Linked DNA regions of Homo sapiens: all the other regions are linked to region 1. The links come from fine-mapping of genetic effects on gene expression. A gene starts in region 1. Each other region holds a variant in brackets. All regions are shown on one strand. Distances are from middle to middle.

Region 1 (4,128 bases):
CAGGTGATCTGCCCACCTCGGCCTCCAAAAGTGCTGGAATTACAGGCGTACAGGCATGAGCCACCATGCCAAGCCCTTTTTCTTTTTTTTTTAGACAGCTGTCTTGCTCTGTCGTCCAGGCTAGCGTTCAGTGGCATGATCTCTGCTCATTGCAGCCTCCACCTCCCAGACTCAAGCAATCCTCCCATCTCAGCCTGCTGAGTACCTGGGACTACGGGTGCAAGCCACCATGCCTGGCTAATTTTTAAAATATTTTGTAGAGATGAGGTCTCACTTTGTTTCCCAGGCTGGTCTTGAACTCCCAGGTTCAAGCGATCCTCCTGCCTTGGCCTCTCAAAGTGCTAGGATTACAGGCATGAGACACCACGCCCAGCCGCCATGAATAAATGTGTATGCTTATTTGTTCATTCATTTGTTCAGCTGTTCATCAAATATCTACATTTTAAAATTACAAGCATGTAATTTAAAAACAAACAAGGGAAAATGACACTGCCTGGCTTCTCCTTACGTGGTTGCTTATCTCGACCCATGAATCCTGGCCGCAGGCAGGAGGTCCTCTGCCCCCAGTTCCCATTCTTGGTCTCAGGGTCCTTGACCCAAGGTGGCTCCAGACTGGAGGAGGGTGGGGCGAGGTGAAACATGGCTGGCTAGACGGAAGGCCTGGAGGTATCCTCAAGCTGCTGCTGGCACAGCAAGTGACCTGTGCTTCTCTTATACTTGGGGTGGCTTGAAGGAGGGGCTCGTGGAGATTATGGGAGGATCAATCTCCCTCCCAAACCCAGGCTGGTACTGCCTCTAATCAGGAAATCTCAACTCTTAGAGACCCCTGGCCTGTGGGTGCACACAGTGCCCTTGGCCCTGAGGTCTGACCCCAAACTGCTCACACAGCTGCTGCCTTGTTGGGGACCCAAGTCTTCCCTAGGGTCCGAGCCAGGGTCTGGGGCTGGTTCAGCTTCATGGCGCCACCAGGGCCACAGGGGCAGTGGCACGGTCAACCTCTGAGGACAGGTCAATGAACAGATGGCTTTTCCGGGCCTGGTATGACAGAGTCTTACTGGTTCGTTGTTTTGTTTTGTTTTGTTTTGTTTTGAAATGGAGTCTCGCTCTGTCACCCAGGCTGGAGTGCTGTGGCACGATCTCAGCTCACTGCAACCTCCTCCTCCCAGGTTCAGGCAATTCTCCTGCCTCAGCCTCCTGAGTAGCTGGGACTACAGGTGTGTGCCATCACATCCGGCTACTTTTTTGTATTTTTAGTAGAGACGGGGTTTCACTGTGTTAGCCAGGATGGTCTCGATCTCCTGACCTCGTGATCTGCCCGCCTCGGCCTCTCAAAGGGCTGGGATTACAGGCGTGAGCCACCGCGCCCGGCCTTGTTCATTTTTAAAAGTCGAAAACTTCAGCAGAAGAAGAGCAAGGAGGTGAATTTCTAATCGATTTATTTTGCTGAAATTCTGAGAGAAACACTGTGGTGTGGGGACAGGGAGGAGCTCTTGCACACACACAGGTGGATCTGCCCACTTTCCACCAGCGGTTTCATTACTGCGAGTTCAGGCAGAGTCCCGGTGCCGAGCAAAGCGTGGGGCCCCTCCGGGAAGCCCGCAGGTCACTCAGATCGCAGCGGGCTCCGGCCTGGCCAGGATTCTGGGGGAGCCGCCCGGAGCGCGGTGAATCGGGGCGGGGAGAGGGGCGGGGAAGGCGCGCGAAAGCCCCAGCAGAGACCGGCAGCGGCGGGCGGCCCGCGTGGGCTACTGCTGGGGGCTGCGTTCGGGCGAGGAGGGGAGATTCTGTCTCAGAGGCCTCGGGCTGCACGTTCTTCCGGGCCGCGCATTTGCAGCCCACAGCAGGCCCCAGCCGGCCCCTCTGGAGTTGGGCCACTGCTTCTGCAGGCCCAGCAGGCCCCTGGGGGCGGCCGGAGGCCACTAACTGGCTTCTCCAGCTCAGCATTCTTCTCTCATTTGCTGGGTACCCCACTCTCTTCTCTACCCCTTTGAACCATCTTTACCCTCATTCCTCAGGGAACGTTTAACGAGTTGAATGTTTACCATGTAGTCACTCTATATGGAAATCATAATTCAATTTTGTAAACATCAGACTTTGACAAAACAAATGATGATGTTCTTAAGGAAAGCAGAGAGACACAGTGTGAAATCGCTGCTCTCAGATCAGCACACGGGAGAGGCCAGCAGTCAGGAGGGGGCTCACCGAGTTTGTCTGCACTCGCTCCCTCCGCAGCCGCCCTCTCCAGCTGGAAGAAGTCGTAATCGAACCTGCTCAGGTCCTCACTGCCCCACTCCGAAGGAAACCCCACGTACAGGTAGGTGCTGTTGGATCCCAAAATCAGGCGGTCCTGGGGAGGAGACGGTGGGCTCAGGAGGGGTTCGAGGCCAAGGAGGGTGAGGTGAACCTCCCCAGTGAGAAGGATCTGAGGAATGTCCTCCCCTCAGGAATCCCCCAGACAGGGAGAGACGCAGACAGGAGGGAGGTGGCCTCTGGCTCCTGCGTTCACCTTCATTGCACACATTGAGGGCGTGACTCCCTTGGCCCTGGGGTTCTGTGGGGACCACCCAGAGCCAGGCCCTCCCTCCACGCTTTCCAGGCTGGTCTGGGTGAGTGCAGCAATGGCTGCAGGGGACACCAGGACCTAACTCAGACTACAGGCTACAGACGGCCTTTTCCGAGGCGTGATGCCCAAGCTAAGCCCTCCTGGGCGGTAAGTCTTGGTGAGGCAGAGACGGCTGCTGAACAACCAAAAGAAGGGCAGTGTGGCCAGGGACAGGAGGCCGAGGGAGGTCACTGAGGGGGCTTTCCAAATGGGGAGCGGCCAATCCCCATCTGCCTGTCCTGTCTGAAAGGCTGTGGCCACCAGGGAGGGGAGAGGGCTGCTGGGAAGCTGGCAGGGGCCCCAGGGTTGGCAGATTGGGGAGGAAGAGGCAGCGATGTTTGCAAGATGCTGTTCAACCCCTCTCAGTGACAGGCTCTTAGAAAAATCTAAAATGGCACAAAATGTTAGAGCTGGAAGGGACCTTGGAGAACACCTAGTTCAGCCCTCCTTGTTTTCCAGGTGAGGTCAGAGGAGTGAAGTGACTTGCCCAAGACCACACAGTGAGTCAGGAGCAGGCCTGTCCCTCCAGCAGTGGTGCCATGTTGTCCCCAAGCCATGGTGGCAGAGGAGCTGGTGTGAACGCCCCATCCTGCCACGTCTGTGATGTGGGCACCTCACATGACTGTCCCCTCCCAGCTCTTGGGGGGGACCTAGGACATTCTGTGAGCCTGCAGGAAAGTTTACCAAATGCTGCAGCTTTGTCCTGGTGGTGATGGGCACCCCGTTAACGGCAACCTTGCATTTGCTATGTGGAGTGACCGTCACTTTACCGTCGGCATTTGTGAAGGAAGCGTGTTTATCTGAAATTCTAAGAAGATGAGAGTCAAAGACACCCAGCAAACGGCGGTTTCCGTGAGCAGGTAGGCTGACCTTTCTCATGTGCACAGGAGGGAAGGTCTACAGCTGCGGAGGATGGCAGGTGGCATCTCGGGGCCTCCTGTGTGCTGTGGCCCATGATGCATGGGGACAGCAGCGGGCGCAGAAGGACCCTGCCCTTGGGGAGCACGGGGAGCTGGGAGACAGCAGGCAAGGGCTTCATTAACAGAACGAACACCAGCTGAGGGCCTAGCACTGCGGGGAGCCGGCCAAGGCCACACTGGAGTCCTCCCGCTCCCAGGCCAGCGGGATGGGGTGGTGGGAAGATGGCAGCAAGCAAGCTTCAGAAGAGACGCTCAGGAGGCGACTCTTAACGAGCCTCACCTACTCCGGGTACGTTTTGATCTGTTTCTGCGCCCTCGCCGTATAAATTCAGACCTTATAGGATTTGGGGCTGGACGTCGGGGTGTCAGGTTGGCATCCCCTCTCCCCGCCCTGCTCCCCTGCACCGATGTCATCTGTGTGTCCTGAATGACTGGCTCCCTGCCTTAGCATGTTCCATGTTCCTGCACTCCTTGGCCATCATGGAATGTTCTGGATGTGGAGACCCGTGTGCATCCAAACCCTTTTTTGCATGGGGCCCAGGGATCCTGTGGGAAAGGTTGCGGCCTCATCACTGGAGTTCAGACATTTACGCACCTGTGCGTTGG
Region 2 (4,128 bases), 37 kb after region 1:
CGGCTAATTTTTGTATTTTTTGGTAGAGACAGGGTTTCACCATGTTGGTCAGGCTGCTGGTCTGGAACTCCTGACCTCAAGTGATCCTCCTGCCTTGGCCTCCCAAAGGCGTGAGCCACCTGCCCAGCCTACTTCTTCTCAATCAGCGTATTTCTTATTTCCTACCAATGGTCTTTGCCCTGGCTAGAACTTGTAGTGAATGTTGTATAGCAGTGACGGGAATAGACACCCTTGGCTTGCCTGCCGTCCTATGGAGAACACCTGCTTCACCATCAAACATGATGGAAGCTGCTTTCCAGGCAAGTTCTATTTCTAGGAAACTTCCTCTCATTTGTTGAGAGGTTGAGAATTTTATGATTGAGGGTTAAATTTTGTCATTCTTTTTGCAGCCAATCATATTTTTTCTCCTATATTCTATTCTAGATCATGAACTTTAAATGTTAAAACAATTTTACATTCCCAGGAAAGGGCCCACTTGATAGTGATTGGGCTTGATTGATAGTGACAGTAATATATTAAGGCCCACCCGATATATGATTCGATTGTGTTTGCTGAAACTTTGATAATAATTTTTGTGTCTGTGTTCATGAAAGATAATGGCCTATAGTGTTTTTGTAATATCTTTGGCTGCTCTTGTTGGAATACTGGCTTTGTAAAATGAAATGGGAGTGTTTACTATGATCTGCATTTTTTTTTTATTTCTTTCTTTGGTAGAATTCACCAGCAAAGATACCTGGAAATGGAGTTTCTTTGTGAGGTTTTTAGGTACAAATTCAATTTATTTAATAGATACAGGACTATTTGAGTCATCTATTTCTTTGCATGAACTTCAGTAGCTTGTGTCCATTTGTTGTTGAATGTATTGGCATTAAGTTGTTCAAAATATTTTTAATCACTCTTTTTAAAAAAGGGAGATTTGCCCAGGCTGGCCTGAAGCTCCTGGCCTCAAGCAGTCTCCAGCCTCAGCCTCCCAAAGTGCTGGGATTGCAGTTGTGAGCCACCCAGCCTTCTCAGTCTTTTAATGTCCCTGGGATCACTTATGCTCTTGGTATTTGGCTTATCAATTTTATGGATGTTTTCAAAGAACCAGCTTTAGGTTTCAGTGTTTTTTCTCTATTGTTTTACTGTTTTTCGTTTCATTAATTATCACTTTTATCTTTTTTCTTCTGCTGCTTGTTTTATGTTTAATTTGCTCTCTTTTTAAATTCTTAACTGGAAGATTACAATGCCAAGTTGAGATGATGATTCTCTAATGTAAGCTTGACTGCTAGAAAACCTCCCCCAGCTCCATTTAGATGCGTCCCACATATGAAAATATATGTGTGTATATATGTGTGTGTGTATGTGTGTATATGGGTGTGTGTATTTGTGTGTGTATATGTATATTTGTATATATGTATATGTATGTCTGTGTATTTGTGTATCTGTATACATGTATGTGTGTTTGTGTATGTGTGTATGTGTATGTGTGTATGTGTGTGCATATGTATTCTGTGTGTTTGTGTATATGTGTGTATGCGTGTATGTGTATGTGTGTACATGTGTATATGTGTGCATGTGTAGTGTGTATGTGTATTTGTGTGTATGTGTGTATATGTATGTGTGTATGTATGTGTGTATATGTGTATATTTGTGTGTATATGTATGTGTGTATATGTGTATCTGTGTGTATATGTGTATATGTGTGTATATGTGTGTATATTTGTGTGTATATGTTATCTGTGTGTGTATATTTGTGTATATGTGTGTGTATCTGTGTGTATATTTGTGTGTATATGTGTGTGTATCTGTGTGTATATTTGTGTGTGTATATGTGTGTGTATATTTGTGTATGTGTGTGTATAGGTGTGTATAGGTGTGTGTGTATGTGTGTGTATATGTGTGTGTGTGTATATATTTGTCTATCCTGACTGCATACTCCATGCTTGTTCTACACATTTTGACAGGTGTCTTGAGTTGCCTTTTTTTTGTCTTTTAAACATTTTTTTAAACTTATTTTTTATTTTTTGTAATACTGTTTCTCTGGCCTCTTCCTTGTAAGTAGTGTTTTGATTTTCATTCAGT[T/TA]AAAAAAAATGTTTTCTAATTTCCCTAGTGGTTTTTTCTTTAACCAATGGATTATTTAGAAGTCTGCTATTTTCCAAATGCTTGTGAATTTCCCAAATATTTTTCTTCTAGTTTAACTCCAGTGTGGTCAGAAAACATACTTCATATGATTTCAATTTTTTTTTTTTTTTTTTTTTTTTTTTTTTTTGAGACAGGATCTCACTCTTATTGCCCAGGCTGGAGTGCAGTGGTGCAATCACGGCTCACTGCAGCCTTGACTTCCTGGGCTCGAGTGATCCTCCCACCTCAGCTTCCAAAGTAGCTGGGACCACAGGCGCGCACCACCATGCCCAGCTAATTGTTTGTATTTTTAGCAGAGACGGTTTTTCGTCATGTTATCCAGGCTGGTCTCAAACTCCTGGGCTCCGGCGATCCACCTGTCTTGGCCTCCCGAGGTGCTAGGATTATAGCCACACACCACCATGCCCAGCCAATTTCAGTCCTCTTACACTCACATTTATTGAGGCGAGTTTTATGATCTGAAATACTGTCTATCATGATGAATGTTCTGTGTGTACTTACAAAGAAAGAATGCGTGTGCTGTGGTTGGGTGGGAAGTGGTTGACATGTTTTATGATATAATTGTCAATTAGGTTGATATTATTCTGCTCTTCTATAATATGACAGTTTTGTCAATTACTGAGATAGCTAGGAGTGTTGAAATCACTAAATACAGTTGTAGATTTGTCTATTTTTCTGTTTCTATTTTTGCTTTGTTTACTTTAAAGCTCATTTTTTAGGTACATACCCATTCAGGCTGGCTATGTTTCCTTAATGAACTCTTTCCTCATTATTAAATATTTCTTGTTCTGAAGCCTATGCAATGTGATGTAAATGTAGCCTCTAGTTTTTTTTTTTGTTAGTGTTTTCATGCTTTTTTTTTAAATATGTAAACCAGGTTTTTAAAAATCCTGTGATACAGAAGCACTTAAACCACCCCCAACCCACACACACATTTTGTAGACAGATATAGTTGGATCCTGCTTTTTCTATCTTATCTGATGATCTTTGCTTTTTAATTGGTCATGTTTAGACTATTTATGTTTTACATAATAATTGATATAAATTATTGGCATTAAATCTACTGTCTTGCTATTTGTATTCTACTTATCCCATCTCCTCTGTGTCTAAATCCCAAACATGGCAGGATAAGAGGGGTAAAGAATGTTTTATAGTTCCGTTTCCCCACACTTGACTCATTAGTTAGTTATACTTGTTTTATTTATTTATTTTGTATTGATTGCTCTAGGGCATCAGTTCACACAGTGCATTCCAGGGTCTGTGAGATCTTTTCAGGGTGTTTGTAAAGTGACACTTCCTTTTGTGATCGTACTAATGTTTGCTTTTTTCATTCTCATCCTCTCATGAGCGTAGAGTGGAGTAACGTGTGCAGTGGGATTTGCCAGAGGCTATGTAACGTGATTTTATAGATGACATGCAGGGCAGAGAATCAAGCTCTTTCATGAAGTCAGACATTACAGAGATTTCAAAAAATGGAAAGCAGTGCCATTCTCTTCAGTGTCGGCTCGAGTACTATTTTTTGGCCTGACATGGTGTTTCACACTTAAGATCCCATCACTTTGGGAGGCAGAGGCAGAAGGATCATTTGAGCCTAGGAGTTCGAGACCAGGCTGGGCAACAGAGCAAGAGCTCATCTCTAAAGAAAAATAAAAATAGATCGGGCGTGATGGCTCACACCTGTAATCCCAGCTCTTTTGGGAGCTGAGGCGGGCGGATGACTTGAGGTCAGGAGTTCGAGACCAGCCTGGCCAACATGGTGAAATCCCATCTCTACTAAAATACAAAAATTAGCCAGGTGTGGTGGCACACACCTGTAATTCCAGCTACTTGGGAGGCTGAGGCAGGAGAATCGCTTGAACCTGGGAGGCAGAAGTTGCAGTGAGCCAAGACTGCGCCACTGCACTCCAGCCTGGGTGACAGAGTGAGACTCCATCTCAAAATAAATAAATCAATAAATAATAAAAAAAATTACTTTTCATAAAAATATTTTTATATTATGTATGT
Region 3 (4,128 bases), 31 kb after region 1:
CTGTGGGAGCTGCTAGGGTGGTGCTGGCATCCTGAGTCCTGGCCCTCCTGGGATCTGGGGCCCTCGGGCCCTGCCTGACCTGGTGCTTTTTTCCCCATCCCCATGTTCCTTTTATTCTGTAAAAAGTTAGTGGACTGCAGCCCTGGGGGTTGCAGGCTGCGGTGCCTCAGGCCCCTCCTTCAGCCTGTGGCCACCTCTGGGGCACAATGGGGGCTCCCCACTGCCCAGTCTGCCCCTCGGGTTGGGGGAGTATCCCAGGCCTCTCTGTGGGACCTGGGCCCCTGACGGGCCTTCTCAGCCCGTTTTGAGGACAGACAGTCCCCCGAGGTAGGCTACATCCCCCCACCCCAGCTGGTCTGCTTGGATTTCCTACAGCCCCCGTGGGCATGGACCACCTTTATTTTATACAAAATTAAAAACAAGTTTTTACAAAAGATCAAGTCACTTTTTCGGTGGAGAGCACAGAGGGGCCAGCCAAGTGCCCCCAACGCGGACTGTCCTGAGAGGCTCCTGACCCCTTGGAGTGAACGATCTGCTCAGGTGCCCTGTGCTTCCGCAGTCCCAGCCCCACCGCCTTACCCGCCGGCTCCAGCTCTGCCCTGCCCAGAACGCTGCGTCATGACAGTGTACGCGCGCATGCGTGTTGTGGGAATTGCACGGGAGATGGAAGGCTTCAGGGACACAGCTTTCTGATGACCGGGGCTGCTTGGTGAGCACATTGAGTTCCCATCACCAGAGGAACACAGCAAAAATGGGAGGCCGCCCATGGGGTGGGGGGGGCACAGGGTCAAGGCAGGCGGACTGACATCCAAGGCCTTTGTTTGGGAAGTTGGGGAGATGGGTGCCATTAAGAGGGCAAAAAAAGCGGGGCACAGGGACTCACACCTATAATTCCAGCACTTAGGGAGGCTGAGGCGGGCGGATCACTTGAGGCCAGGAGTTCGAGACCAGCCTGGCCATGGCGAAATCCCGTCTCTAGTAAAAATACAAAAAAAAATTAGCCAGGCGTGGTGGCGTGTGCCTGTAATTCCAGCTACTCAGGAGGCCGAGGCACAAGAATTGCTTCAATCTGGGAGGCGGAGGTTGCAGTGAGCCGAGATCGCGCCACTGCACTCCAGCCTGGGCGACAGAGCAAGACTGTGTCTCAAAAAACAAAGGGCAAAAACAAGCAAGCCATTGTAACACCTCCCCTCCCCTCCCCTCCCCTCCCCTCCCTACAACATCCAGCCCAAGGCAGCTGCCAATTTCTTTTCTATCTCTATAGATTTGCTTCTCCTGGAAACTTCATTCAAATGGAATTATACAGTGTGTGGTCTTTTTTCTCTGGCTTCTTGTACTTAGAATGACATGTCCAAGGTTTGTCCACATTGTAATGTGTTAGAATTTCATTCCTTTTTAAGGCTGAATCATCCGTTGTAAGGATAGACCAATTTTATTCAACTGTTCATCAGTGGATGGGTGTTTGGGCTGTTTCCACCTCGTGGCTGTTACAGATATGCTGCCGTGGAAAATTCATGTACGAGTTTTTGTGTGGACATATTCTTTCTCTTGGCTATTTGAGGTTTTAAACTAGACTTGTATGCCTTTGAAAATATTTGAATTAAAAATTAGAGGCTGGGCACAGTGGCTCATGTCTGTAATCTGAGAGCTTTAGGAGGCCAAGGAGGAGGGATTGCTTGAGGTCAGGAGTTTGAGACCAGCCT[G/T]GGTGACATAGCAAGACCCCAGTCTCTACAAAATATAAATATAAAAATCTAAATGAATAAACATTAGAAATGTACTGAAATGTTAATGGTAGTTAGGTGATATTATAAAATTCTCTAACTTGAACATGTTACCATTAACATCAGAAAAATAAGATAAAAAATAATGCTCTATTGCGTTTTCATAACACCAGCTTAAACAGTCCTACCATTTTAAGAAAGCAGAACCATGAACTATGCTTATAGGCATTTGCTGACATTTTCCTGTTATGTTTTAAAGCTAATTATGTTAATGGTACACTCCACCTTGAAAATGTCACCAGCGTTCAGTGAATCTAAAATTTGGTCTTGGGTCTCGTATGCTAGGGCGAGTAAGAGGCTATGCTCTGTGTAAAAAAACAATTTAAAAACGAAGTAATATTCTTCAGAAATAAAAACAAGTTGATTAAGACTAGAATAGAGCCACAGCCTTGGCAGAAGAGGGTGGCAAAGGGAGCCACAGACGTGAGTCGGCTAAGGTTTTGTTTTATAAACCAAATAACAATATCCAATAATAATCCCTTGTTAGTGTTAGCAATTAAGATGTCTGCTTCTAGAATATTACACCAGAGTGAGTTTCCTTGGATTTGCCTCCATATAACCAGAAAAATCCAACATCTTATTTAGCTGCAACATGATTTTGTAATCATACAAACATTTTGGTATAAAAAACAAACATTATCCTAAAATAGAGATGCTGAGAACTTCCATTTGGGGAAGGGGTCCAGAATGAAAAAATCCAATCCCTTAAAGAAAGGATTCGAGAATACGTACCTGGTGTTCTTGATTTCTCCCCTGGTTCTCGATTGCTCGAAAGAGCTCCTCACACACAGTTGGAATAATACCCTGTTTGCACCAAACCCAATCATGGAATAGCTTTTCCCAGAGCCAGTTTGGCCATAGGCTAGGAGAGTTGCATTATAGCCTTGCCAAGCACTGTCCAGAATTCCCCTGCCAAGGTCATGGAAGACGTCTCTCTGGAAAGATGACAGGTGGCATATTCAGCACAGGCCAGTGGCATGCAGATTTCCTCTTCCCTACTTTCTGAGTCCTCTTAAATCTGAATAAGTATCCTGACTTTCATAAATCCCACCTCGATTCATAGCGTATGACCTGCTTGAAATACAACTCAGATGCCGGCTTAGAACAGGTGGAGTGAAACTGAAAGGATTTGTCAATTTGGAAAACACTCATCATTTACATTCATGGATCACATCGGGTACATCCTAAACTAGCTAATCCCTGTTGGTCATGAAATTGCATAGTTCATAGCCTTGCCAAAACACGGGCCAGGTCTTTAAAATTAAGCAATTAGACAAAAATATCAAGGCACAGAAGCCAGTCAAAGCATTTTCTACTACTTTATTCGTTGACTCAAACAATAACATCACAATATAGCCACACTGATTTTAGTCCTCTGCTAGTGAGCTCTTCTCTTTTTCTGCTTTTTCCAGTGGTTCTGGAACACACACACACACACACACACACACACACACACACACGTGCATCCCCCTTTTTTAAGTTAAAATAGAAATGTTTGTGCCCACTGTTGCTGAAAGAGAGGGGATGTGGTCTGCCTCCTTTTATCATCTGGGCTGTGACCATAGACCGCAATAGTTATCTTATTTGAGGCTGTTTCAAAGTGTATATTTCTTCCTACTCTCTAATAGCAATGGTAAAGCACTAAGCATTATTCCATTTGTTACGATATATACATTTGTATAATTTATTTCATGTTTCTGGGGAAAATGCACATACCAACATAGTGTGATTTACATGAGGACAATAGACAATAACCAACGTTCATGTAATATTTGAGAAAGGGATAAAAATTATTCCACCAAAAGGGTTAGGGGAGCTCTAGACTTTAAAATGTGGAGTCTCACCAGTGGTTTCCCAGAACACTGTGACTGTACTTTTACCAGAAGAAATATATTAGTGTAACAGATGTTGACTCTACTGTAGAAGCTGTGTGCTAAACCTAACACATGCCTACCAAGTAAAAGTAACTAGTTTTGCTGTTTTGTTTTCTCAGTGCTATTGGAGATTTCGGAAAACATTTTGTGTGTGTGCTTAATTTTTATGGATTGAAAACTTTAAACAAGTAATATGGGCCAGGCGCGGTGGCTCATGCCTGTAATCCCAGCACTTTGGCAGGCCAAGGTGGTGGATCACCTGAGGTCAGGAGTTCGAAACCAGACTGGCCAGCATGGTGAAACCCCCATCTCTACTAAAATACAAAAAATTAGCCAGGTGTGGTGGCAGGTGCCTGTAATCTCTGCTACTCAGGAGGCCGAGGCAGGAGAATCACTTGGACCTGGGAGGCGGAGGTTGCAGTGAGCCGAGATTGCACCACTGTACTCCAGCCTGGGCAACAGAGGGAGACTCT

Direction of the effects. Alleles are on the strand shown, and positions count from the first base shown. SD is a standard deviation of normalised expression in the study named. Not every link is listed here.
With allele T in place of G in region 3, the expression in spleen of the gene that starts at base 2,233 in region 1 is lower (moderate effect, 0.59 SD a copy in GTEx).

What was found. PIP is the estimated chance that this variant, and not a neighbour inherited with it, causes the effect.
Region 2: its variant is the best candidate, but not a certain one, in a credible set for the expression of LINC01341 in subcutaneous fat (FUSION, PIP 0.58).
Region 3: its variant is the best candidate, but not a certain one, in a credible set for the expression of LINC01341 in spleen (GTEx, PIP 0.87).

The regions. Positions count from the first base shown.
Region 1 is chr1:246,787,385-246,791,512 of GRCh38, forward strand. It overlaps LINC01341 (long intergenic non-protein coding RNA 1341), which reads left to right and starts at 2,233. Exons shown (of 2, transcript NR_015422.1): 1 at 2,233-2,314; 2 at 3,062-4,102. RefSeq lists a silencer at 1,474-1,553.
Region 2 is chr1:246,824,179-246,828,306 of GRCh38, forward strand. No RefSeq gene overlaps it. Among named protein-coding and RNA genes, the nearest start is that of LINC01341, 37 kb to the left of the region's middle. The variant T/TA (reference allele first, on the strand shown) is at 2,065.
Region 3 is chr1:246,818,165-246,822,292 of GRCh38, forward strand. No RefSeq gene overlaps it. Among named protein-coding and RNA genes, the nearest start is that of LINC01341, 31 kb to the left of the region's middle. The variant G/T (reference allele first, on the strand shown) is at 1,704.